Linked DNA regions of Homo sapiens. The protein of the gene in region 1 purifies or fractionates together with the protein of each later gene. This does not show direct contact. Each region holds a gene or a part of one and is shown in the gene's direction. Other genes may lie near its edges. The genes, in order: YEATS2, KANSL3, SETD1B, UBAP2L, ZNF608, TAF5L and KANSL2.

What was found.
Region 2: the proteins of YEATS2 (region 1) and KANSL3 purify together in Homo sapiens (affinity purification with mass spectrometry, with the first as the bait; one large-scale study listed by BioGRID). This does not show direct contact.
Region 3: the proteins of YEATS2 (region 1) and SETD1B purify together in Homo sapiens (affinity purification with mass spectrometry, with the first as the bait; one large-scale study listed by BioGRID). This does not show direct contact.
Region 4: the proteins of YEATS2 (region 1) and UBAP2L purify together in Homo sapiens (affinity purification with western blotting; one study listed by BioGRID). This does not show direct contact.
Region 5: the proteins of YEATS2 (region 1) and ZNF608 purify together in Homo sapiens (affinity purification with mass spectrometry, with the first as the bait; one large-scale study listed by BioGRID). This does not show direct contact.
Region 6: the proteins of YEATS2 (region 1) and TAF5L purify together in Homo sapiens (affinity purification with mass spectrometry, with the first as the bait; one large-scale study listed by BioGRID). This does not show direct contact.
Region 7: the proteins of YEATS2 (region 1) and KANSL2 purify together in Homo sapiens (affinity purification with mass spectrometry, with the first as the bait; one large-scale study listed by BioGRID). This does not show direct contact.

The regions. Positions count from the first base shown.
Region 1 is NC_000003.12:183,700,797-183,704,296, forward strand, and holds part of YEATS2 (YEATS domain-containing protein 2), read left to right. Parts: intron 1-3,500. UniProt on the Homo sapiens protein: Chromatin reader component of the ATAC complex, a complex with histone acetyltransferase activity on histones H3 and H4. YEATS2 specifically recognizes and binds histone H3 crotonylated at 'Lys-27' (H3K27cr).
Region 2 is NC_000002.12:96,628,313-96,631,812, reverse strand, and holds part of KANSL3 (KAT8 regulatory NSL complex subunit 3), read left to right. Parts: intron 1-269; exon of another isoform or gene 270-330; coding exon 331-501; intron 502-3,500. UniProt on the Homo sapiens protein: Non-catalytic component of the NSL histone acetyltransferase complex, a multiprotein complex that mediates histone H4 acetylation at 'Lys-5'- and 'Lys-8' (H4K5ac and H4K8ac) at transcription start sites and promotes transcription initiation.
Region 3 is NC_000012.12:121,817,509-121,821,008, forward strand, and holds part of SETD1B (histone-lysine N-methyltransferase SETD1B), read left to right. Parts: coding exon 1-196; intron 197-290; coding exon 291-396; intron 397-1,895; coding exon 1,896-2,387; intron 2,388-3,500. UniProt on the Homo sapiens protein: Histone methyltransferase that catalyzes methyl group transfer from S-adenosyl-L-methionine to the epsilon-amino group of 'Lys-4' of histone H3 (H3K4) via a non-processive mechanism.
Region 4 is NC_000001.11:154,223,955-154,227,454, forward strand, and holds part of UBAP2L (ubiquitin-associated protein 2-like), read left to right. Parts: intron 1-1,129; 5' UTR 1,130-1,169; coding exon 1,170-1,259; intron 1,260-3,327; coding exon 3,328-3,405; intron 3,406-3,500. UniProt on the Homo sapiens protein: Recruits the ubiquitination machinery to RNA polymerase II for polyubiquitination, removal and degradation, when the transcription-coupled nucleotide excision repair (TC-NER) machinery fails to resolve DNA damage.
Region 5 is NC_000005.10:124,649,140-124,652,639, reverse strand, and holds part of ZNF608 (zinc finger protein 608), read left to right. Parts: intron 1-341; exon of another isoform or gene 342-1,033; coding exon of another isoform or gene 1,034-1,040; intron 1,041-2,942; coding exon 2,943-3,030; intron 3,031-3,500. UniProt on the Homo sapiens protein: Transcription factor, which represses ZNF609 transcription.
Region 6 is NC_000001.11:229,616,123-229,619,622, reverse strand, and holds part of TAF5L (TAF5-like RNA polymerase II p300/CBP-associated factor-associated factor 65 kDa subunit 5L), read left to right. Parts: intron 1-3,500. UniProt on the Homo sapiens protein: Functions as a component of the PCAF complex. The PCAF complex is capable of efficiently acetylating histones in a nucleosomal context. The PCAF complex could be considered as the human version of the yeast SAGA complex.
Region 7 is NC_000012.12:48,672,239-48,675,738, reverse strand, and holds part of KANSL2 (KAT8 regulatory NSL complex subunit 2), read left to right. Parts: intron 1-3,500. UniProt on the Homo sapiens protein: Non-catalytic component of the NSL histone acetyltransferase complex, a multiprotein complex that mediates histone H4 acetylation at 'Lys-5'- and 'Lys-8' (H4K5ac and H4K8ac) at transcription start sites and promotes transcription initiation.

The DNA.
Region 1 (3,500 bases):
GATACAAAAAGCCACGTGCTGTATGATTCTATTTATACGAAATGTCCAGAAACAGGCAAGTTTATCCACACAAAAAGTAGTTGCCAGGGGGATGAAGGGAGAGGAGAATTGAGAGTGACAATTAAGAGGTAAGTGGTTGCTTTTTGGAGTGATGAAAACATTATGGAATTAGATAGTGGTGATTTTTGTGCAACTTTGTGAATATACTGAAATCCACTGAATTGCACTCTTTTAACTGGTGTGTGTATATATATATGTGTGTGTGTGTGTGTGTGTATATATATATAAATTTTTTTTTTTTTTGAGAAGGAGTCTCGCTCTGTCGCCCAGGCTGGAGTGCAGTGGCGCAATCTCAGCTCTCTGCAAGCTCTGCCTCCCGGGTTCACGCCTTTTCCTGCCTCAGCCTCCTGGGTAGGTGGGACTACAGGCACCCACCACCTCGCCTGGCTAAGTTTTTTTGCTTTGTATTTTTATTAGAGACGGGGTTTCACCATGTTAGCCAGGATGATCTCGATCTCCTGACGTCGTGATCTGCCTGCCTTGGCCTCCCAGTGCTGGGATTACAGGCTTGAGCCACCGCGCCCGGCCGGTCAATATATATATTTTTTGAGACAGGGTCTGTCTCTGTCGCCCAGGCTGGAGTGCAGTGATGCAGCCGTAGGTCATTGCAGCCTTGAACTCCTGGGCTCAAGCGAGCCTCCCACCTCAGCCTACCAAGTAGGTGGGACTACAGGTACACACCACCATGCCCAGCTAATTTTTTTCTTTTTCTTTTTCAGTAGAGACAAGGTCTCCCTATGTTGTCCAGGCCGGTCTTAAACTCCTGGGTTCAAGCAATCCTCCTGCTTTGGCCTCCCAAAGTGCTGGGATTACAGGCACATGAGCCACTGTGCCTGGCCTAAAACAGTACCTTTTAAGTTAAGTGAATTATATTTCAATTAAAAAAGTATATCCACACTCTCAAATAAATTAAAACTTAAAAACAAAATACATAACAATCGCCAGTAGAAGCACTGCAGGTAAAGTTCAAGCCCCTCCCCACTGCATTCTCCTCACCCTCAGCTTTCATTACAACCACTTAACAGGTTCCCCACAGCTCACTCCTCAGACAAGCAGGATAAACAGCCCTTGCCTAGAACTAGTTCTACTTCTCCATGTCTGCAGTCATCAAAGTTCACATGCCTGAACATCTCACAGTTACTTTCCAATGGGCTCATATTTCACCTCTACCTTCTCCGCTTACCGAAATGCTCTTCATCCTTCAAGAATCAAATTCCGACTCATCCATGAAGTGAACTCCAGCCTTCGAAAGCTTTTTTTCCCCCTAACTACTACAGAACAGATGATATGGAAACAATCTGCATCAGGCCAGCCGCGGTGGCTCATACCTGTAGTCCCAGCACTTTGGGAGGCCAAGGCGGGTGGATCATTTGAGGTCAAGCGTTCGAGACCAGCCTGGCCAACATGGAGAAACCCTGTCTCTACTAAAAATACAAAAATGAGCCGGGTGTGGTGGTGCGTGCCTGTAACCCCAGCTACTTGGGAGGCTGTGGCTGGAGAATCACTTGAACACGGGAGGCAGAGGTTGCAGTGAGCCAAGATCGTGCCATTGCACTCCAGCCTGGGCGACATAGTGAGACACTGTCTCAAAAAATTAAAAAAATTACCTTAAAAATCTCAAACCCCTTAAACATCCCACATGCCTCATTCTTCCAGAAAAAGAAAGTTGAACCGGTGGGGTAAAGGAATGGTAAAAGTGGCCGGGTGCTGTAGCTCACGCCTATAATCTCAGCACTTTGGGAGGCTGAGGCGGGTGGATCACCTGAGGTCAGGAGTTCGAGACCAGACTGACCAATATGGTGAAACCCCGTCTCTACTAAAAATACAAAAAAATTAGACGTGGTGGTGTGCGCCTGTAGTCACAGCTACTCGGAGGCTGAGACAGGAGAATTTCTTGAACCCGGGAGGCGGAGGTTGCAGTGAGCCAAGATTGCGCCACTGCACTCCATCCTGGGCGACAGCAAGACTCTCTCTCTCAAAAAAAAAAAAGGGAATGGTAAAAGTTACCTAAAGTCAGCTTTCCAGGTGCATTAATGGAGAGAAGCAGTGGCATGGATAATTTAGAGGAGCTGTTTTATCCTACAGTCTTCTGTGTGCTAGTTTGCAAGGTTGTAGACAGCGTACTGGCCAGAATGGATTCTGGGGGCTGACCATATTAGCAAATTGTGTAGTCTTAAAGCCGTTTTATTTATAGGAAAGTTGGTGTTTTTGACCTGGAAATATATAAGACTGAAATAATGAGACAGTGTTTTTGAGCTCAGCTGTCTTTTGCTCAGCTCTTTACATGTTATTAGAAATGTCCCACATCACGTCAGTCCTAATGACCAGATCGCTCAGCTTCTCGCCATTCAGGTCCAGTATAAAATTTTGATTATTTTTACTTAAAAGATCTGTTTTTGTTTTGGATGCCAGATGAGTTAAAGAAAAAGTGATATGTTAGCCAGCAAATGGGAACATATTCAAAAGGTTTTGTGTGTCAGACCTGACTTAGAATAATTAGCATAGCATTTTTTTGTCGGTACTAACTCTGGTGAAAATCATAACAGAATCTTCTGTCTCCTAGAGTTCCCTTGGTCTGAGTCTGTCCTTTAATAGAGGTTGGTGCAAAAGTAGTTGTGGTTTTTACTTTTGCACCAACCTAATAGATAACTTCTCGTTCCTTCTGTTACAAAATGAGCATAACTTTGGAAAGACGATCAGGTGTATTTTGTTTTTTCAGTTCTTTGTATCAAAGGGAGGTGACAGTGTTAAGAGTAATGTTTAAATAGGTGGAGAAATTTTAATTGACATTGAAATATAGATTTTGATTTTTTTGATAGGGCTTCTGCATGCCTAATGATTTTCTCAGTATAATATTAAAATGGATATATATTCTTAGAGTGTACATTGAACAGTCTTTGGGAAGAGTGGATGGTGTTGGGGTGAAGCTGCTGCCGTATTTAGTTTTCAAAATAGAATTCAGGAAATGGATCATATGTATTTGGATTACTGAAAGTCAGTTTCATTAAAATGTTCCTAAAGGGGCCAGGCGTAGTGGCTCACGCTTGTAATCCCAGCACTTTGGGAGGCTGAGGCAGGCGGATCACCTGAGGTCAGGAGTTCAACCCTCCCTCTACTAAAAAAATAAAATAAAATAAAATAAAAAATAGCCAGATGTGGTGGTGGGTGCCTGCAGTCCCAGCTACTTAGGAGGCTGAGGCAGGAGAATCACTCCAACCTGGGAGGCAGAGGTTGCAGTGAGCCGATATTGCGCCACTGCAATCCAGCTTGGGCAACAGAGTGAGACTCCATCTCAAAAAAAAAAAAAAAGCTTCCTAAAGCTTCAACAGTAGACTTGTGTAGTACAAATCCCCTTCGTTCTAGATCTCCCCACTTTGGTTTTAGGATTTAGCCTTTGTTCGTTCTGCTTGTTTCTTTTTCTGTTGCTGGCAATAAAACTT
Region 2 (3,500 bases), on another chromosome or scaffold:
GGCTTCCCAAAGTGGTGGTATTACAGGTGTGAGCCAGTGCACCTGGCCCATATTTATCTTAAAAAAAAAATAGATGTTTATCATTTTTTATATAGACTCATTGAAAAAATGACTTTGTGTTCTTCCAGTACATACCATCATGTCTGAGAGGGCAGAGATCTAGACAAGTGTGGGAAAGATGACTTTGGATCAAAATTTTCTTGTGAATATAATGTGCTTATGCGTAATTTAAAGCTGACTGTATTAAAGATACATTTTTTGTCAACCAGATGATTGTTAAATACCTGTGAAGTATGTGTGGCCCGGTCCTATTTCCTCACCTGTTTACAGTGAATCAGACGTCCCAATAGATGTGGAGACGGTCACATCAACGCCTATGCCACTCTATGACAATCAGAAGGCACGCAGCGTGATGAATGAGTGTGAACGGCATGTCATCTTTGCCAGGACTGATGCAGATGCCCCTCCTCCACCAGAGGACTGGGAGGAGCATGTCAACAGGTAGGCTGCTCATCAGGAGGATGATCACTGCCCTGTAATTATTTTGTATCATCTTCATTGAAATAACACTTATTAGGACCTTATTTCATTTGCAGCAACACAAGTCAGAGTGTTCTCCAAAGTCTCACATTATAACTCTCAGTTCACCATGCTGTGTGTGAGCTCCTTGAGAGTAGGGCTTACATCTCAGCCATCTTTGCATACTTCACACTAGGACGTTGTCTGGCACACAGTAGGCATATAATGTTTGTTGAATAAATAAGTGAATTAAATTTGATACATATGACTAGCTCTGTAGTAGCTTCTGTTGTATAAGTTATGATATAGGGGTTACCCAAACTGCAAAAAAATGAAATGTACATTTGTAAGATATTGTGTTTAAATGGTTTATAACTAGGATGATGGAAGTTGTGAAGTCACATGAAAAGCTAACAGATGTTTGAGTGGCTTTTAAAAATAGATTTGCAGGCTATGGAGGGCACACTGAAGCCTATTTTCACGAGTATACTGGCTAGTTTTGTTCCCAAGCTTTCTACTGCCCCCAGGGGACTCAGCACTCCTCTCCTGGTTATTTGTCCCTGTTCATTTGGTAAACATTTACCTAATTACATAACAGCTTTTTGGGGATATTATTTACATACCATACAATTCAGCTATTTAATATGTACAGTCATTGGTTTTTAGTATAGTCAGAGTTGTATATTCATCACCACTATCAATTTGATAAACATTTTCATCATCCTAAAAAGAAACCTCTTACCCATAAACAGTTACTTCCCGTTTCCTCCCAGCTTCTCTGGTCCCTAGGAAGCACTAATTGACTTTTGTCTTTATAGATTTGCCTATTCTGGACATTTCATATAAATGGAATCATGCAATATGTGGTCTTTTCCTACTGGCTTCTTTCACCCAGCATGATGTTTTCAAGGTTTATCCATGTGGTTGCGTGTATCAGCACTTCATGCTTTTTATTGCCAAATGACATTACATTGTATGGATAGCCCACATTTTATTTATTCATTAATCAGTTGATAGATATTTAGATTGTTTTCATTTTTTGGCAATTGTGAATAATGCTATTATGAACATTTGCATACAAGTTTTTGTGTGGATCTAAGTTTTTAATTCTCTTAGTTATATACCTGGGAGTGGACTTGTTGGGTCATATGATAACTCTGTATTTAACCTTTGAGGAATTGCCAGACTGTTTTCCAAAGTGGCTGTACCATTTTACATTCCTACCAGCAGTGTATGAGAGTTCTAGTTTCTCCATATCCTTGCCAACACTTACTGATTTTCTTCTTTTTTAAAAAAATTATAACCATTCTACTGCGTGTAAAGTGGCATCTCATTGTGGTTTCAACTTATATTTTGTTGATGGCTTTTTGTCTGTGTATCCATATATCTACTATATATATAAGGAAATGTTACTTCTTATATCAGGAGTTGGTAGGTGGTAACTTTCCATAATTTTGGAGAACCCTTATTTTATAATAGAGAGAAAGAGGGGTAGAAAGTTTGAGGTGATTGACATGACTTCTGAAGCTGGTTGGAAGTTGGGAATGAGATTGAACAGGTGTGCTTGTGTGATCAAAACAGCAGCTGTTGAGGGAGGAGCAGTTCTGCACCTTGGTTGAAAAAGCTTGTGAAGAAGTTGGTTGGGGTCTTGCATTGGAATTAATTTAGTGCCTTAAGAAGCTCTTTTCTCACGCCTGTAATCCCAGTACTTTGGGAGGTTGAGGCGGGTGGATCACCTGAGGTCGGGAGTTCAAGACCAGCCTGACCAACATGGAGAAACTCTGTCTCTGCTAAAAATACAAAATTAGCTGGGTGTGGTGGCGCATGCCTGTAATCCCAGCTACTCGGGAGGCTGAGGCAGGAGAATCACTTGAACCTGGGAGGCGGAGGTTGTGGTGAGCCGAGATCGTGCCATTGCACTCCAGTCTGGGCACCAAGAGTGAAACACCATCTCAAAAAAAGAAAAAAAAGCTCTTTTGAGCTTCAGATAAAGAAGAAAACTGCTACGAATGAAGATCAACTACTGGAATATTGCTAGAGTCAGTATATTCAGCAAAAGGATTTATCACTATTTTTACAGTTAATAATAAAAAATAACGACGATGGTAATAACAAAAAGGAGCTACCGTTTGTTGAGTGCTTTCTAGGTGCCAGACATTGTATCAATGTCTCTTCAAATGCATTGTCTCTTAATCCTCCCAATGACTCTTGGAGGTATATCCCCCCTTCATCTCTGCTCAACAGGATGAAGAAACTGAGCTCAGGGTGTTTAAGAAACCTTAATTAGGAAGTGATGGAGAAGGATTTTGTTCAAACCAAGCAGCCTGACTCCAGAACCCAGTGTTCTCAACTACCATACCCTCTGCCTTAATTAAGGGCAGTAAGAAGAGATTAAGACCAGTTAGTGGTGGCTGAACAAGGTGGCCTGGTATGGTTATGTATCCCTTTGTGGTATTTTCTACTACCTTGTCCTTTGCAATTTCAGAAAGTACATAGGAGAACTGTGTGATTTTTTTTTTTTTTGTCAGTTTATCCATGGTTATGATTAAGAGGTTTTTGTGGACAATTCATACTTATCAAAGTCATTAGAGACTTAATAATACTATAAATACCAGTTTGTTTCTTTTTTCTTTTTTTTGAGACAGGGTCTCACTCTGTCACCCAGACTGCAGTGCAGTGGCACGATCTCAGCTCACTACAAGCCTTGACCTCCAGGACTCAGGTGATTCTCCCGGGTGGGAACCTTAACCTCCCAAGTAGCTGGGACTACAGGAGTACGTCACCATTTCTTAATTTTTGTAGTTTTTGTAGAGATTGGGTTTCACCATGTTGCCTAGGCTGGTCTCAAACTCCTGGCTCAAGTGGTCTGCCCACCTTTGCCTCCCAAAGTGCTAGGATTATAGGTGTGAGCCACTGCACTTGGCTGAGTTTCTTAATTTATAAGGAGAGATATAACTGCAAAGCATAAGAGACACTGGGGT
Region 3 (3,500 bases), on another chromosome or scaffold:
GTCATTGTCGGCGTCCTCGTCCTCATCCGCGTCATCATCCTCGGGGTCCTCAACCACCTCACCCTCGTCCTCGGCCTCCGACAAGGAGGAGGAACAGGAGAGCACCGAGGAGGAAGAGGAGGCGGAGGAGGAGGAGGAGGAGGAAGTCCCCAGGAGCCAGCTCTCCTCCTCCTCAACCTCATCCACATCAGATAAGGTGCCTAGCAGGCCAGGAAGCCTCAGGGGGCCGGGCCAGGCGACGAGGGCCAGACCCTTCGGCTCACCTGTCCCCACTCTTCCTTCTCCCCCAGGATGACGACGATGACGACAGTGATGACCGGGACGAGTCTGAGAACGATGACGAGGACACAGCCCTGTCAGAGGCGAGTGAGAAGGACGAAGGGGACTCGGATGAAGGTGAGCAGGGAGGCCGTGGCTGCCTGGCCCTCCCGGAGTCCCTCTTTCCCCGGGGCAGAGCCTGAGCAATTGTCAGAAATACTTCTGAGCCAAAATGTTGTGCTTTTGAGACGTTACCTTGTTAAAACACACACACAGGGTGGCGTACGGTTCCATCTTCAGGGAGTGCCGTGAACATAATGGCATGTCCATAGAAATAGAAAGCAGGTCTGTGGTCCTTAGGGCTGGGGAGCCCGGTGTTCAGGGGGGCTTGCTCAGCCTACATGGCTTCCTTTTCAACTGATAAAAATACTTAGGGACCAGATCGAGGTGGTGGTTGTGCAACATTACAAATGTACTAAATGCTGCTGGAATTATCACTTTGTAACGAGCAGTTGGCCGGACGCAGTGGCTTACACCTGTAATCCCAGCACTTTGAGAGGCCTAGGCGAGTGGATCACCTGAGGTTAGGAGTTCGAGACCAGCCTGGCCAACATGGTGAAACCCCGTCTCTACTAAAAATGCAAAAAATAGCCAGGCGTGGTGGTGGGCACCTGTAATCCCAGCTACTTGGGAGGCTGAGGCAGGAGAATTGCTTGAATCCAGGAGGCAGAGGTTGCAGTGAGCTGAGATCATGCCACTGCACTCCAGCCTGGGTGACAGAGTGACACTCCACCTCAAAAAAAATAATAAATAAAATTTTTTTTACAAAGTGAGCAGTTTTTGGCTGGGCGCAGTGGCTCACGCCTGTAATCCCAGCACTTTGGGAGGCCAAGGCAAGTGGATCACGAGGTCAACAGATCGAGACCATCCTGGCTAACACGGTGAAACCCCGTCTCTAATAAAAATACAAAAAATTAGCCGGGCATGGTGGCAGGTGCCTGTAGTCCTAGCTACTCAGGAGGCTGAGGCAGGAGAATGGCGTGAACCCAGGAGGCGGAGCTTGCAGTGAGCCGGGATCGCCCCACTGCACTCCACCCTGGGCGACAGAGCGAGACTCCGTCTCAAAAAAAAAAAAAAAAAGTGAGCAGTTTTCTGTTATGTTAATTTTACCTCAGTTTTTAAAAGCGACTACTAGCGGCCGGGTGTGGTGGCTCACTCCTTTAATCCCAGCACTTTGGGAGGCTGAGGCAAGTGGATCACCTGAGGTCAGGAGTTTGAAACCAGCCTGGCTAACATGGTGAAACCCTGTCTCTACTAAAAGTACAAAATTAGCCGGGCGTGGTGGTGCATGCCTGTAATCCCAGCTACTTGGGAGGCTGAGGCAGGAGAATCGCTTGAACCCAGGAAGTGGAGGTTGCAGTGAGCCGAGATCGTGCCACTGCACTCCAGTCTGGGCAACAAGAGCAAAACTCAAAAAAAAGAAAAAAAAGACTCCTAGTGAACACATGCCCCACACACATATCTGAGGGCCGTGTTCAGCCTGGGTGCCACCAGTTTGAGGCCATTGGTGAGGGGTCTGGTGGGGGCTGGGGCACAGCGGGTCCTCAGGCAGCCCCTCGTCTGTGTCCCCCATCCAGAGGAGACAGTGAGCATTGTAACCTCCAAGGCCGAAGCCACGTCGTCCAGTGAGAGTTCCGAGTCTTCTGAGTTTGAGTCAAGCTCCGAGTCCTCGCCCTCATCCTCGGAGGATGAGGAGGAGGTAGTGGCCAGGGAAGAGGAGGAAGAAGAGGAGGAGGAGGAGATGGTGGCCGAGGAAAGCATGGCTTCTGCAGGCCCTGAGGACTTTGAGCAGGACGGGGAGGAAGCGGCTCTGGCCCCGGGGGCACCTGCAGTGGACTCGTTGGGCATGGAAGAGGAGGTGGACATCGAGACTGAGGCTGTGGCCCCTGAGGAGCGGCCCTCCATGCTGGACGAGCCCCCCTTGCCTGTGGGTGTTGAAGAGCCAGCGGACTCCAGGGAGCCGCCTGAGGAACCAGGCCTGAGCCAGGAAGGGGCCATGTTGCTGTCTCCAGAGCCCCCTGCCAAGGAGGTGGAGGCTCGACCCCCATTGTCCCCTGAGCGAGCTCCAGGTAACACCTGCAACCCCCTGGGAGGGTGGTGGGAGGGAGGCAGGAAGTCCTCACTGTCAGAATCAGCCCGGGCTTCCTGGGGTAGATCGCTGACCGTCCCCAGCCTCAGTTTCCCGTGTAAAACGAGATCAGCCGGTTGTGCCTCCCTCGAGCGAGATGAGGTGTTGGGTGCCAGCACTGAGCCTGGCACTGCATGGATCAACCCAAAGGGGAACGACTGCTATTTTTCAGTCCTCACTGCCAGCGTTTCCCTGGTGGCTTGGTCCTTGGACCATCAGTCCCATGAGATGCTCCCCAAAAGGAGGATGGGTGTCCATGGTCACTTGAGTGACAAGTCGGTGGGGTAGGCCCTGGGGTGCTGGGCCAGGTGAGGGCTGCAGGCATTGCCCCCTCCGGCATCGTGATGCTGCTGCACAGAGCATATGAGAACTCTAACTGCATGGCCAGTAGAACTTTCCACAGTGATGGCAGCGTTCTCAGGCTGTGCTGTCCAGCACTGTAGCCTTCAGACACAATGTTGCTACCAAACTCTTGAAACGTGGCCAGTGGCACAGTGGAACTGAATTTATAATAGTGTTCAATTTATTTTGGCTTACATAGATAGCTGCATGTGGTTAGCACCTACCTCTTTTTTTATTTTTATTTTTATTTTTTTTGAGACATAGTCCCGCTCTGTCACCCAGGCTGGAGTGCAGTGGCACGATCTCGGCTCACCGCAAGCTCCGCCTCCCAGGTTCACGCCATTCTCCTGCCTCAGCCTCCAGAGTAGCTGGGACTACAGGCACTCGCCACCACACCCGACTAATTTTTTGTATTTTTAGTAGAGATGGGGTTTCTCCGCGTTAGCCAGGATGGTCTCGATCTCCTGACCTCATGATCCACCCACCTCGGCCTCCCAAAGTGCTGGGATTACAGGCGTGAGCCACCATGCCCGGTCCTAGCACCTACCTTTAATAAGTCCTTCAGGAAAGGATTACAGCTGCCCCTGTACATTGAACACATGGCTAGGGCCCACGGACATGCAGTTTTCAACCAAATATGGACGGAAAAGACCGGTGGGATGCGAAACCCACTGTATATGGAGGGCGATCGCCTATACGTGGGTTCTGCAAG
Region 4 (3,500 bases), on another chromosome or scaffold:
CTCTTTGGAAGGGAATAAATGCAGAGTAACCTATTATTTTGAACACTCTATCATATGATTAATGTTTTCTTTTTTACTAAATGCAGCAGCTGAGATTGTATTATAAAACAAAGTATGAACTAAAGGAACTTGAATTCAGTAGAATCCTTCCTTGTTAGAAGTCTTGTAACAAAAACTATATTCTGGTTTGGGGAAGGCCCTGTGTGTTCTGTGTCTCTTTAAAGACTCAACTAAGTCATCTTGCCAGCATTAAGGTCTCAAGTTTAAAATGATTTCTTAGAAGCACTTTCTTCCAAATAAAACTTTGTGCTAGATGCTTTTGGTTTGAGACAAATTTGAGATTCCCTGTATATTAAGGTGAGTGGTGGAGGGTAATTGCCATTTTGGTTTCTTGAAAATGTGGACTAGGAGACCAAGAGAAGCACCTGTAAAAGCAGTGTGTTGGAATTATTTTCCAGAGAACAGAGATTCTGGACAAAGTCATTGGGGCTAATACGTACCCTGTTGAAGGCTGTGGTTTAAAAAAACAAAAAACCCCCACAAACACAAAACAAACCCATAGCATACTGAGAGAGATGAAACTTGAGGGACAAAGAAGAGTCTAGACTTGAACTTGTCCTTTCCCAAGCAATGGAGGTCACATGCAGCTTACATAAAAAAGGTTGTAAGGCAGGTAAGGCTGTTTTCTTAGGTGATTGAATACAGTATTTAAAATTATTTCTCTGGAGTGTAGACTAATCTCCTTCCTGGAAGGTTTTTGTTTCCAGACTTTACTGATTATCTTTCCTTCTGTCAAAGGTACTTCAGATACTTGCATCTATGTAAAAGGCTTTTGATTATTAGTTAAATGTAAAGTCTGCTTATGGGGGACTAGTAACCAAACTGCTGTAACTTCTTAAAAAAATCCATCACTTACACATGCTTTATACATTTCTTGTTACATAAAAATGGATTAACAGCCATAGCTCCTTAAGGAATTTATCAAGCTAATTATGTTGTAAGAATAAATGAATCTTATTGATTTGTTCCTTTGAAGAAGTGAAAGTGTTTGGTGGTGAAGGTGCTGATGAGAGAGTTAAAAACATATTTTGCCCACATTTAATACCTAATTTTCTTTTAAATCTTTCAGTATTCTACCTTGTAAATACTGTTATTTGTATATACTGTAAATGATGACATCGGTGGGCACTAACCGAGCCCGGGGAAACTGGGAACAACCTCAAAACCAAAACCAGACACAGCACAAGCAGCGGCCACAGGTAAATAATCCAAGGCATACGGATTCATGGATAGCGTTGCCTGCTGATACTGGTTTCCATGCAGTACAGCATCATTCTGTGCTTTGAACTGTTGGTTTAGGTTCCTTATTTTTGTTTTCTAGTCCTTGGCTCTTTTTTTACTTAGGTCCTGATAACTGTTCATGACATGCTGTAAGGCAAGATGCTTACTTTTTTGTTGTTTAATACTGTATTATGAGGCTTAGCACTTTATTATGGGTCCTGTGCTTTTTATCTTTTTTTTTTTTGTTTTGTTTTAAGATAGGAGCTCCCTTTGCCTAGGTCAAAGTGCAGTGGCACAGTCACCATTCATTTGTAGCCTCAACCTCTGGGGCTTAAGTGATCCTCCCGCCTCAGCCTCCTGAGTAGCTGGGACTACCAGTGCACACTACCATGCCAGGCTAATTTTAAAATTCTTGTAGAGATGGTAGTCTTGCTGCATTGCCCAGGCTGGTCTTGAACTCATGGGATTATAGGTGTGAGTCACTGCCCGGCTCTATAACTCTTAAGATAGCATTTCCCTTCTCTTACCTGGGCCATTTTAGCAATACCTTTCTATTTCTTAGACCTTCCACCTTGATATCTCTCTCTTTTGTTTTTGAGACGGAGTCTCGCTCTGTTGCCCAGGCTTGAGTGCAATGGCGCCACTTCGGCTCACTGCAACCTCTGCCTTCCAGGTTCAAGCAATTCTCCTGCCTCAGCTTTCTGAGTAGCTGGGATTACAGGAGTGTGCTACCATGCCCAGCTAATTTTTGTATTTTTAGTAGAGACAGGGTTTCACCGTGTTGGTCAGGCTGGTCTCGAACTCCTGCCCTCAGGTGATCCACCTGCCTCGGCCTCCCAGAGTACTGGGATTATAGGCATGAGCCGCTGTGCCCTGCCCCACCTTGATACCTCTCTAGCAAGCCTTTTCCATTCCAGATTTTATCCTTTGCTCCTCTTTTCCCCAACTTGTCTTTTATTTTCCTCTCTGGTTCCATTGAGACCTTACCTGATTATTCCTTTCCCATGAGGAGCTGGCAACTTCACTATGTTTCTTCAAAATTAAATGAAACACCTTAGAGCATTGCTCAATTTTAAGTTTTAAAGAGTAAATTAACCTCTTGGATATTAACTTTGATGTAGATATATTCTGTTTCTCATACCAGGTTGATGTTAGTTGGTATGTAATGTGAATGAATTACTTATATTTGATTATGGTCAGATAAATCGAATATGTAAGATTAGGACATCCCCCTTACGCATTTTTCTTTCATCTGTGTTTTCAAGTGGATTTCTAGTAGAATTATAATACTTAGTTGGGGCAGTAAAATTCCTAGTATCTGAACATACACTGGATATATAGAAGATGTGTTGAGTCTATTGTCAGACTTGTATTCTAAGCTCTAGGAATAAGAGGATGGCGTTGGTTATTACAGAAATAAGAATAGAGTTTACACATGGCTTTGTGACTTAATATGAATTAAGGGGCAGATGTTTCAGAGCGGTTCTGTGATTCTAAGACGGAAGTCCCTTTAACTGTGAAGATTGGTGAATGAGTTCCTTACTCTTTCTGTAACAGTTTCACTCAATTTTTTGTCATTTTACTGATTTAAGCATCTTTTTTTTTGAGGTGGAGTCTTGCTCTATCACTTAGGCTGGAGTGCAGTGCCACTATCTCAGTTCACTGCAACCTCCTCCTCCCAGATTCAAGCAATTCTCCTGCCTCAGCCTCCCGAGTAGCTGGACCTACAGGTGTGCACCACCACACCCGGCTAATTTTTGTATTTTTAGTAGAGACGGGGTTTTGCCATGTTGGCCAGGCTGGTCTCAAACTACTCACATCAGGTGATCTGTCTGCCTTGGGCTCCCAAAGTGTGGAATTACAGGCGTGAGCCACCACCCGCACCTATCCCTGATCCCCCATTAAGCGTCCTAAATGGTGCTTTATTACTTGCTCATTTGTTACAAGGAAAAGAAAATTGGGGCAGTGGAGGCTGACGAAATAGGTTCCTGTTCTCTAAACTGTTGCCTCATGATTATGCTTTCTTGATCTCATCTCAATTCCTAGGCCACTGCAGAACAAATTAGACTTGCACAGATGATTTCGGACCATAATGATGCTGACTTTGAGGAGAAGGTGAAACAAGTGAGTGTATCACTAATTTACTGTACACTATGAGAAAAGATACCAGTATTAAGGCATAATCAAATACTGTAGATGGATGCCAGGATACTTTCTAC
Region 5 (3,500 bases), on another chromosome or scaffold:
CAAAGAAACAGTACACTGTGTAGTTTATATGAGAAACATTCCTTAAGCCTTCATTCCAATATAGAGTGGCAGATTTGGCTGTGTAAACATGTGCCTGTATATATTCGGATGTGAATTGTGGGCAGATTTAAACACTCTGTGGCATTGTGAAGCGGCTCGTACATATAAAGAAAGATAGACACAAGCACACATATTTAATTAGCACTGCTTGATGGAGACTGTTCAAAATCTCCTTGGGTGTAAAGCATTTGTTTTGAGCATTTTAAATACGGAGTGCTTCTGGAAAAATAAGGGTTACTTATTTAGGCCCTTTGAGGTTGAAAATGGATTTTTCTTTCCAGGACTTGATTCCTTCCGAGTGCAAATAACAACGGCATCACTTGTACTTCGATAAGAGGTCTGCTTGTGTGGCTTCCAGAAAGAGCAGCAGGAGATGTGAATAATTTTACAGTGAGGAAGTTGCAACTGCAGATTAGCCTTTGTGACAGCTTCAACCTGTGGCCCCAGATAACCAGTGATTAATTGCCTGCCCTGGGTCCCTTCCTTTTTTCAGACTCCAGGTTTCCCTTGAGCCTGTATTGAGACGGTGAATTTCGTTCTGAGGGTTCTGCGTGGGCCGGCGTGTTGTGTGGAGCCGCGTGGCGCGGGGAGCGCAGCACGGTCACGCAGACCGAAGCTTTCACTGCACGGCCGGACTCGTTAGTGCGAATGAGCCTGTGTCCCGCGTGCACCGAGGGAGCCGAGCAGCGCAGGCGGCCCTCTAGCCCCGCACGGCCAGCGCGCCGTGGGGGATGCGTCCCTTTGCCTCCGCCACGCTCACCTCTACCCGACCGCTGCCTCTGTGCTCCGGGCGGCCGCCTCGGCCCAGCCAATCAGACGCGAGTGCTCGCAGCGGGCGCCGGCCAATCCGCGGCCAGCGTTCTCTGGAAACGCGAAACCCTTAGGGGAAAAGCAATAACAAAAGCCTTTCACTGCAGACAAATGTTAAGTGTCTGTGCAGACTTTTCCTGTTTTTAATTTTATTACTGCAAGAATGGAAGGTTTGTTGTTTCTTTCATGTTTCCTTTCAAGCAATTTTAATTATATATTTGTGCTACATCAGGGACTCTGGAACGCAGTGATTCAGCCTATTGGATCTAAAGCTAAAATGCAGTAACCTTCTGGCAGTACAGATATATTCCTGCACTGTAAATATAGCTGACATGCTAAAGAATTTTAAGCAGCTGCAAAGGTCTTTGACACCACACACAGTGCCCCAGAGAGAAGATGATGAGAAAACCAGCTCAGTCTTCCCCTTTGCCTCCTCTCCCACCCCCTCCCCTTTCCTGAAGGGATGTGTTCATAAAGAATCCTTTCCTCCAATTGTTCTGTCTTGTGCAGATTTTGACCAAATGCCTAATTACCATGGATTCTCATCGCAATAGGAAATTTTATACACAATGGTTTTAAAAAAATTTCCTGAGGGAATTTCATTGGAATCAGCTATGATTTGAGGAAATACTTGCTTTGCTCCATCCTAGCCTTTCCCCTGCTAGCCTATTGCTACAGTACACTGAATTAACACAGAGTAAATAATTCAGCTGTTGCCTAAGTAATAGCAACATAGACCATATGGGAAACAATTTTAAAATCTCCTTTTGAGACTTTGGAAAGAAATCGTTCTCCATTACTTGAGTCCCAACCATTGAAATATTTTACCTGCTGTTAAAAGGTTCCCAAGGAAATGAGTCTTACCTTGTCAGGTTTCCCTTACTGTAAAGGAGCCCACTACAGGTTTTCTGTAAAATTCACAATGGCAATGGTAATGCAAGTGAGCAAACTAGCTAGAAACAGATTTTGACTAATGTCTTCTGGTGCTTCCAAGAAAGAGTAGGGGTAGATGCAGAAAAGAAAACAAAGGCTCAGTTAAATATTTTATTTCTTTACCCTAATAATTTATGTATGTCTCAAAATCAAGGTTCTATTAAAATATGCTTTAAAGAAGTGATTTTTGTAATTTGGCATTTGTCCTCTCAGAAATAAAGAGGATATTATATTTTCTCTGTGACATTTGGTATACTAAGCACACTTAAGTTTAGTAATTCACAGATGCAGTGCTAAATTAAATTGTCTGTCTGAAAAGCAGTTGGAAAAAGCAGAATGGCTTGCAGGAAACGAGTGTGTTAGTTTTGAGATTTCTTTTCTAATCCTCTGAGGCAAATGCGTACCAAAGTTGACTCCAAAGATAACCCCAAGAGTAAATCTATTGTGCACATTTGTTTTCTTAAGAGGGCTATTTTAGGAGTCCTTAATATGAAACAAAACCAAACACTGAAACAGATACGGTACCCAGGCTGATTACTGTCTCACAAAGTCAAAGAGGGGAGGATTAGGGAAGTGAAATCGTAGTTGATTGTCTGCTATCTGGACTCTTGAGTCCCCACTCTCCTGTCTATGCCTATTTTTATGCACCTGCATAATTATTTTTTCTTAATAAAAATCACCATCATTTTATATTGTTGAATTGGAAACAAAACCGATTCCTTTCAGTCACCCTCTGGTTTAAGCACTGGTAACTGGCGCTAGTTTATATTGGCTGCTTGCCAAACGAAAGCAATTATGTGTAATAATAGAAAAATTAAGAGGTGAGTGTTGCTGTTTTACAGCAGGACATGGCAAAAACCATTTCCTTCTGTCAGCAGTATCTTGATTACACTCTCACACACAGTCTCACTCCTTTGTACCACATGCGCACGCGCACGAATGCACAACACACATTATTTCCTGTGGGTTTTAACTTGAGGTCACTGAAACCAGAAAGAGGAAGAATGCAAACCACAGCTTTTAAAAGCAAATGAGAATAGAACTTGCTGGCAAAAAAAAGAGAAAAAAATAATAAGTGAACTGGAAATAACAGTAATCAGTGGTAACTATGATCCTTTTTCATCCCCTGCCTCCTGCAGGTGTCCTAGTGGTCAATGTCACGTGGAGGAACAAAACGTACGTGGGAACCCTACTGGACTGCACCAAGCACGACTGGGCCCCTCCCAGGTATGAACAGGGCCTTTTATTTCTCTCCTTCCCCATCCTCTCTTTGCAGGGAAACTGTAGAGAGAGATTCATAATACATAAAAGTGTGCCTGTAATTGAAACCAGGCAAAGGAGAAATGAGCAATTTAGGATTGAACGCAGTAAAATGCAGATGCTAAATTTCTTTTCTATCAGAAGATCTCTGCTCCCCACCCCTTCTCTCCTGTCTTTGTTTTCATTTTTTCTCAAAGTGGGAATTTGAACTGGTTTGGAAGCTAGCTACTTGAGCTGTTTTTCTTTGGTTTTTCTGAGGAAGAATATAAGCCCTTGGTCGCCTGTTCTTTTGCAGGTGTTGGAAATTGTCAGTCTTTTCCTTGACTGGGCCCAGCCCTGAAGCTACTGGAGTGTTGACTCCTCTTTACTGCATTGTGTACTTTGTGATTTCACCTGGCTCTTTTGGGGATGCTCATTTTCACATCTGTTACTTGCTT
Region 6 (3,500 bases), on another chromosome or scaffold:
CGTAGGTGGAAGGCTGTAGGGTAAGTAGTTGATGAAACAAGACTTCTGGAACATCATGGAGGTCCCAGCTGATGTTGGAGAAAATCTACTTCTCATGACATCTGTTTGCTGGATTTCGTGATTTCCACCTACTTTCTACCACTGCTGCCATCCCCACCAAAACGCCACATTCTTCACTGCGTCCTGAGCCCAGCTACGGCCTTATCCATGTGCCATTTTATTTCTTAGGACACCATGGGAAAAAACACAGCTTCTAGTTCAAGTGTATTTATGTCAGTCTGAGCAAAGATTGAATATGAAAGGCTATCATAATTTTTAAATTATATGAGGTATGACTGAAACTGAAAGTAGTATGGCTCATTTATTTTTCAGTTGTGATTTATATTTTCACAAAGCTTATTGAATACACTTTATCATGATGATTAATGCAAAGCTAGGGCTTTAGGTCCTACTTAGACTGATCTTTTGATGTTACAACCATTTAGTTGCTGTGAGTGAAGAGAACTAATAACTTGAGTTACCTAGTAGACACTTTACAAAAAAATGCAAAAAAATAATTTTTTTCTTCTGTTATAAACATAAATTTGCCATTGGAAAAAAGATACAATTACTCAAAAGCCAACAGTCAGAAGTCTCAGTTGAAGAGCTGATTTGAGGATTGTGTAGTGAGTTTGCCTGAATTTATCTTGAACTCACCCCTACTCAAAACTGCCACCTTATTGGGGCAGGGGGAGGGATGGGGGAGCCAGGTAGTACTCTTTTGGCATTTCGTGGAACTGTGTAGTACTTTAACCTGTGATATGGTGGATGAGGGTGCCTCCCAGCCCTCCTCTACCGACCGTGTACATTAGAGCCTAACGGGGGTGGGGGTGGAGGGATAGGATGCAGCGTGTAACCACTGAAGGGATTGACCAGACTAGAGTTCCACACTGACAGCATCTTAAGAGGATGCCTGGGTTCCATGTATCTCCACCTCCCCATGTTTCTGTAGTTGAATGTTAAGTGTGGCTGTGGTTTTCCCTGCAGAGTTGTTACATTGAAATGATCATGTGGGATTTTATATAGCAACTTGGTTGAAGTATCTGGCAACTGTTGATACATGAGAATAGATATACATTGTGTCAAAATCCTCCAGAAATTTTTGATTTCCAGAAATACCAATCTGGCAACTGTTGATACATGAGAATAGATATACATTGTGTCAAAATCCTCCAGAAATTTTTGATTTCCAGAAATATCAATAATGTGATATGAAGAGCAGAGTATTTGACATCTGTTTTTACCTCTGAAAGTTAAGTATTTTATATAAATTGAAAATGATGAGAAATTCTGAAATGTTAACAAAGAGTATAATTATATTTAAATCCAATTTCAGTTTGAAAGATTTTATAATTATAGGAAAAGCTAGGCAGGTAACGAAACTGCACTGTTCGTCTCATGTATGAGTCTCTCCAGAGACTTAGGTCTAGTTTAAGGAGAGTTTTTTTTCTTCACTTGTCCCTTTTTGGATATTAGTACTCTGGAAATCAGTCTGGGTGGAGGGGACCGATTTATCTCAGGTTCATTAATTATCCATGTCACTTGAAATATATGTACATTGGAATAAAACCCAGCTGAGTTGATTGGGTCGTGTCTCTAGTATTTGAGTTTAGCGTGGTTATGCAAGAGAGTCATTGCCAGAATTCCTGCCCTTAAGATCCATGGCCATACAGTTGATTCACCACCCACCCTCAGGGAAGCGCCCTTATCATAAATGGTAGTTTGGACTCAGAGAAATTGCTATTTGGGGCAGCTAATTTAAGCATATTTGTTAGAATCAGTATTACAGACTAGTTTCTAGCAATCTTAAATATGGTCAGTGTTGACTATCATTCATTCTTACTCCGTTCTGTTTACTCTTTCCTAACTTCACATCTTTTCCCTTCCTCCTCAGACACATAGGTATATTGTCGCACCTTGAGGACACTGTGTCATTGCAGAGCCTGTTCTCCAGATCAGTCATTCACATGTCTTTCACATGCAGAGTTTTTTCCTGTCAGAGGTGATCTAAGAGATCGAGGCCCATCTGCCTGGAATGCTCACGGATGTGCATCAATATTTGCATGCATTCCCAAGTCAGCAAAAGATCGGCAGTGTGGAAGCCGGAAAGATTTCAGTCTCAGCTAGAGTAGGGAATTGGGCTGCTTTGGGAAAGCCCGCAGAGTAGGAGATCTTGAAGTTAGATGAAAAGCAGCTGTAGCAAGTGATAGGAAGAGGCACTGGTTGGATTGACTCGTCTTGACTTTGGGCCACACGGGAAAGGACAGTACTGTCACAGCCTCCGTGTGCATTTAACTTTTTTACTCTAAATATAACACAACCAGAATCTGCAGGGCTGAAATTATTTATATACATATCCACACACTCATGGGATTCTTATGTATAGCCAGGTTGGAGGATCACTGATAGAGCAGTGCTGATCAGTGGCCACAGAGAATGGGAGCAGGGACCCCACTCTCAGAGTATCAGAATCCCTGTATTAGCAATTTAAAAAAACAGCTTAATTAAAAAGTAACCTAAGTCATCAATACAGTGAGAGAATAATACACCATACCCAAGCAAGGTAAATTTCATAGTGAGAAGAGAGTTCAGTATTTGGAAATTTATTATTGTGTTTCATTATGTCACTGATTCACAACCATAGTGTTCCTTCTTTTTAACAATCACACACCTAGTACCCCTTCTTTGTAACAAATATTTTGAACTCTTTGGCAACCTAGAAATAAAATGCACAGATAATGTAATCTTTCTGGGCATATAGTTTAATATATATATAATGTCCTAACATTTTATATTTACATGTATATATACTTGTGAGTATGTCTCTAGCCTTCACAGTTTGCTCTGTTGTATGACTTGTAGGGAATTGAAAAGTAGGTCTTCAGAGTATATTTTTAAAGGGCTCCCACAAATCAGTTTAGAAGGAAATAATTACTTGCAAATGGTATTGGGACAGTGTGTTAGCTACAGTCACTGGGCAAAACATTTGTTTGGTTATTCACCACACATACACTAAAAGAAACTGCAGATGGACGAAAATTAGATACAAATAATTTTTTTATGTTTAAAGAAAAATAAGACCAGGCATGGTAGCTCATGCCTGTAATCCCAACAATTTGGGAGACTAAGGAAGGAGAATTGCTTAAGCCCAGGAGTTTGAGACCACCCTGGACAACATAGCAAAACCCCTTCTCTACTAAAAAAAAAAATATAAATAAATAAATAGACTTCCGGAAAAGGTGGAATTTTACATCTTAAAAAAGAATGGAAGAGCAGGCACGGTGGTTCGCACCTGTAATCCCAGCACTTTGAGAGGCCAAGGCAGGCAAGTCACTTGAGGTCAGGAGTTCGAGACCAGCCTGGCCAACATGGTGAAACCCCATCTCTACTAAAAATTTAATAATTAGCCAAGTGTGGTAGCGTGGGCCTGTAATCCCAGCTACTCGGGAGTCTAAGGCAGG
Region 7 (3,500 bases), on another chromosome or scaffold:
TTACATGAACCAGCCGGCATTCATTTAGTAGGTTGCTTACTGCCCCCACCAAATGATTTCTAATAACTTCTAATAGTAATGGCTTCAGATAGGTACATTTCAGTTCCAGACCATTGGTTAAATTCTCTTCTGACAGGGTGCAGTGAAATTAATTTTTTAAAACAATTTTTATTTTTCTCATTTTCAGTATTCAAAAAGTGAATTTCATTTTAACAAACTCTATATTAGGTTAAGGCCTCAGTATTTTAGGTTACAGACAGGTTAATGTAGGCATAACCCATTTTTCTGAAGATGTAACTTAGTCACCTTGTGAAACCGTTATGTATTTATTTTTGAGACGGACTCTCACTCTGTTGCCAGGCTGGAGCGCAGTGGCACGATCTCAGCTCACTGCAACCTTTGCCTCCTGGGTTCAAGCAATTCTTCTGCCTCAGCCTCCCTAGTAGCTGGGACTACAGGCGCACGCCGCTGTGCCCGGCTAATTTCTTTCTTTTTTTTGTATTTTAGTAGAGATGGGGTTTCACCATGTTGCCCAGGCTGGTCTCAAACTCCAGAGCTCAGGCAGTATGCCCACCTCGGTCTCCCAAAGTGCTAGAATTACAGGCTTGAGCCACCGTGCCCAGCCAACTGTTACATATTTTTAAAGCCTTTTCACATTTTCTGATAGTCTGTTAGCTTTTGTCATTTCTGTAATTTGCTGGTTTTATTTTATTTTATTTATTTTTAAATTTATTTTTTATTAATTTTATTTTATTATATATTATTTTTATTTATTTATTTAATTTGTTTATTTTATTTAATTTTTTATTTTTGGAGACAGAGTCTCGTTCTGTCGCCCAGGCTGGAGCGCGGTGGTGCGATCTCGGCTCACTGTAATCTCTGCCTACCAGGTTCAAGTGATTCTCCTGCCTCAGCCTCCCGAGTAGCTGGGATTATAGGTGCTTGCCACCATACCTGGCTAATTTTTGTATTTTTAGTAGAGAGGCTGTTTTGCCATGTTGGCCAGGCTGGTCTCGAACTCCTGACCTCAAGTGATCCACCCACCTTGGCCTTGTGCACCACACCTGGCCCTTTGCTGGTTTTATTAACCATGTTTTGATTTTTCTTAATTTCTTTTCACTTTTACTTCAGAATATAGTTAAGTACCTCTTATACACAGGTAATATTGGCTTTTGTTTATATTTATGAAGAAATTTTGGCAGAAATTACTTGCTCTCAGTCCTAAAGTTAATTTTGTATATTCTGTGTATTTCAGTGCCTTAACAGCTAGTTTTTAAAAATAAAGCAGAGGCTGGCCACAGTGGCTCACGCCTGTAATCCTAGCACTTTGGGAGGCCGAGTCGGGTGGAATGCCTGAACTCAGGAGTTTGAGACCAGCCTGGGAAACATGGTGAAACCCCATCTCTACTAAAAATACAAAAAATAAAAAAATTAGCCAGGTGTGGTGGCACACGCCTGCAATCTCAACTACTGTGGAGGCTGAGGCACGAGAATTGCTTGAACCCGGGAGGCGGAGGTTGCAGTGAGCCAACATTGTGCCACTTCAGTGCAGCCTGGGAAACAGAGCAAGACTCTGTCTTAAAAACGAAAAAGTAATAAAGCATAATTTTTTGACTTAAAATTAGTATAATTTATGTGTTTTGCCTTTTCAATAAAATTTTTACTCAGTATGAAACTTAAGGTATATAGCTTGTTCTTTGTATTTATGTAATGATCAGACGGTGAGTGAAACAAAATTTTTAAAATTCAAAGTTATTCACTTATTTATTTATTTATTTATTTATTTTTGAGACATGGTCTTGCTCTGTCACCCAGGTTGGAGTGCAGTGGCGCCATCTCAGCTCACTGCAGCCTCCCACTCCCAGGCTGAAGTGATCCTTTCACCTCAGTCTCCTGAGTATCTGGGACTACAGGTATACACCACCGTGCCCAGCTAACTTTTGTATTTTTTGTATTGACAGGGTTTTATCATGTTACAGCCCAGGCTGGTCTTGAACTCCCAGGCTCAAGCAATCTGCCTGCCTCGGCCTCCCAAAGTGCTGGGATTACAGGCGTGAGCTATCACACCTGGCCTCATCTCTTAATTTTGATTGCATAAATCAGAGCCAGAGAACAGTCTACCATATATTAATCACTAGCAAAACTTTTAGAAGTTCTTTTTTTTTTTTTTTCTTTTTTTGAGATGGAGTCTTGCTCTGTCACCCAGGCTGGAATGCAGTGGCACGATCTCAGCTCACTGCAACCTCTGCCTCCCGGGTTCAAGCAATTCTCCTGCCCCAGCCTCCCGAGTAGCTGGGATTATAGGCGCCCACCACCATACCTGGTTGATTTTCGTATTTTCAGTAGAGACGGGGTTTCGCCATGTTGGCCAGGCTGGTCTTGAACACCTGACCTCAGGTGATTCGCCTGCCTTGGCCTCCCAAGGTGCTAGGATTACAGGTGTGAGCCACCGTGCCTGGCCAGATATTCTTTTAGTTTATAATTGGCAGCAAAGCTTAATCAAGTTGATATGGATCCGTGCCAGATCTTTGGCAATTAAGGGTTAACCTAGGGTACTGAATTTTGAGAATATTGTCAAGAAAATTAGCTGAGGACAGGGTATAGCCCATTTTGACTAGTTATTTGAGGGTCCATATGAGCTCCAATATAGGCCTATATTTTTTAAACAATTACAAATTTTGGCTGGGCACAGTGGCTCATGCCTGTAATCCCACCACTTTGGGAGGCCGAGGCTGGAAGATCGATCTGAGGTCAGGAGTTAAGACCAGCCTGACCAACATGGAGAAACCCCATCTCTACTGAAAATATAAAAATTAGCTGGGCGTGGTGGTAGGTGCCTGTAATGCCAGCTACTTGGGAGGCTGAGACAGGAGAATCACTTGAACCTGGGAAGCGGAGGTTGCAGTGAGCCAAGGTTGTGCCACTGCACTCCAGCCTGGGTGACAGAGCAAGACTGTCTCAAAAAAAAAAATTATTTGATGTTGGTATCTTTAGTGCTTTAATTAAAATATATTGCCAGGTGCAGTAGCTTATGCGTTTAATTCCAGCACTTTGTGAGGCTGAGGCGGGAGCATCGCTTAAACCCAGGGGTTCAAGCCTGGACAACATGGTGAAATCCCATCTCTACAAAAAATACAAAAATTAACCAAGTGGGGTGGTGCACACCTGTAGTCCCAGCTACTCGGCAGGCTGACGTGGGAGGATCGCTTGAGCCCAGGAAGCAAAGGTTATAGTGAGCTGTGATTGATTGCACCACTGCACTCCATCCTGGGTGACAAGAGTGAGACCTTATCTCAAAAAAAAAATATATATATATATATATATATATACGTATATATATATATACATGTATATATATATACGTATATATACATGTATATATGTATATGTGAAAGATACATGTTAATTGAACACTTTAAAGCTGTCTTGACTGGTAAGTGATGATTTCATATCAAAACATTAAGAATGTAGATTAATAAAAGTTTAAAGTGTTCCGCATG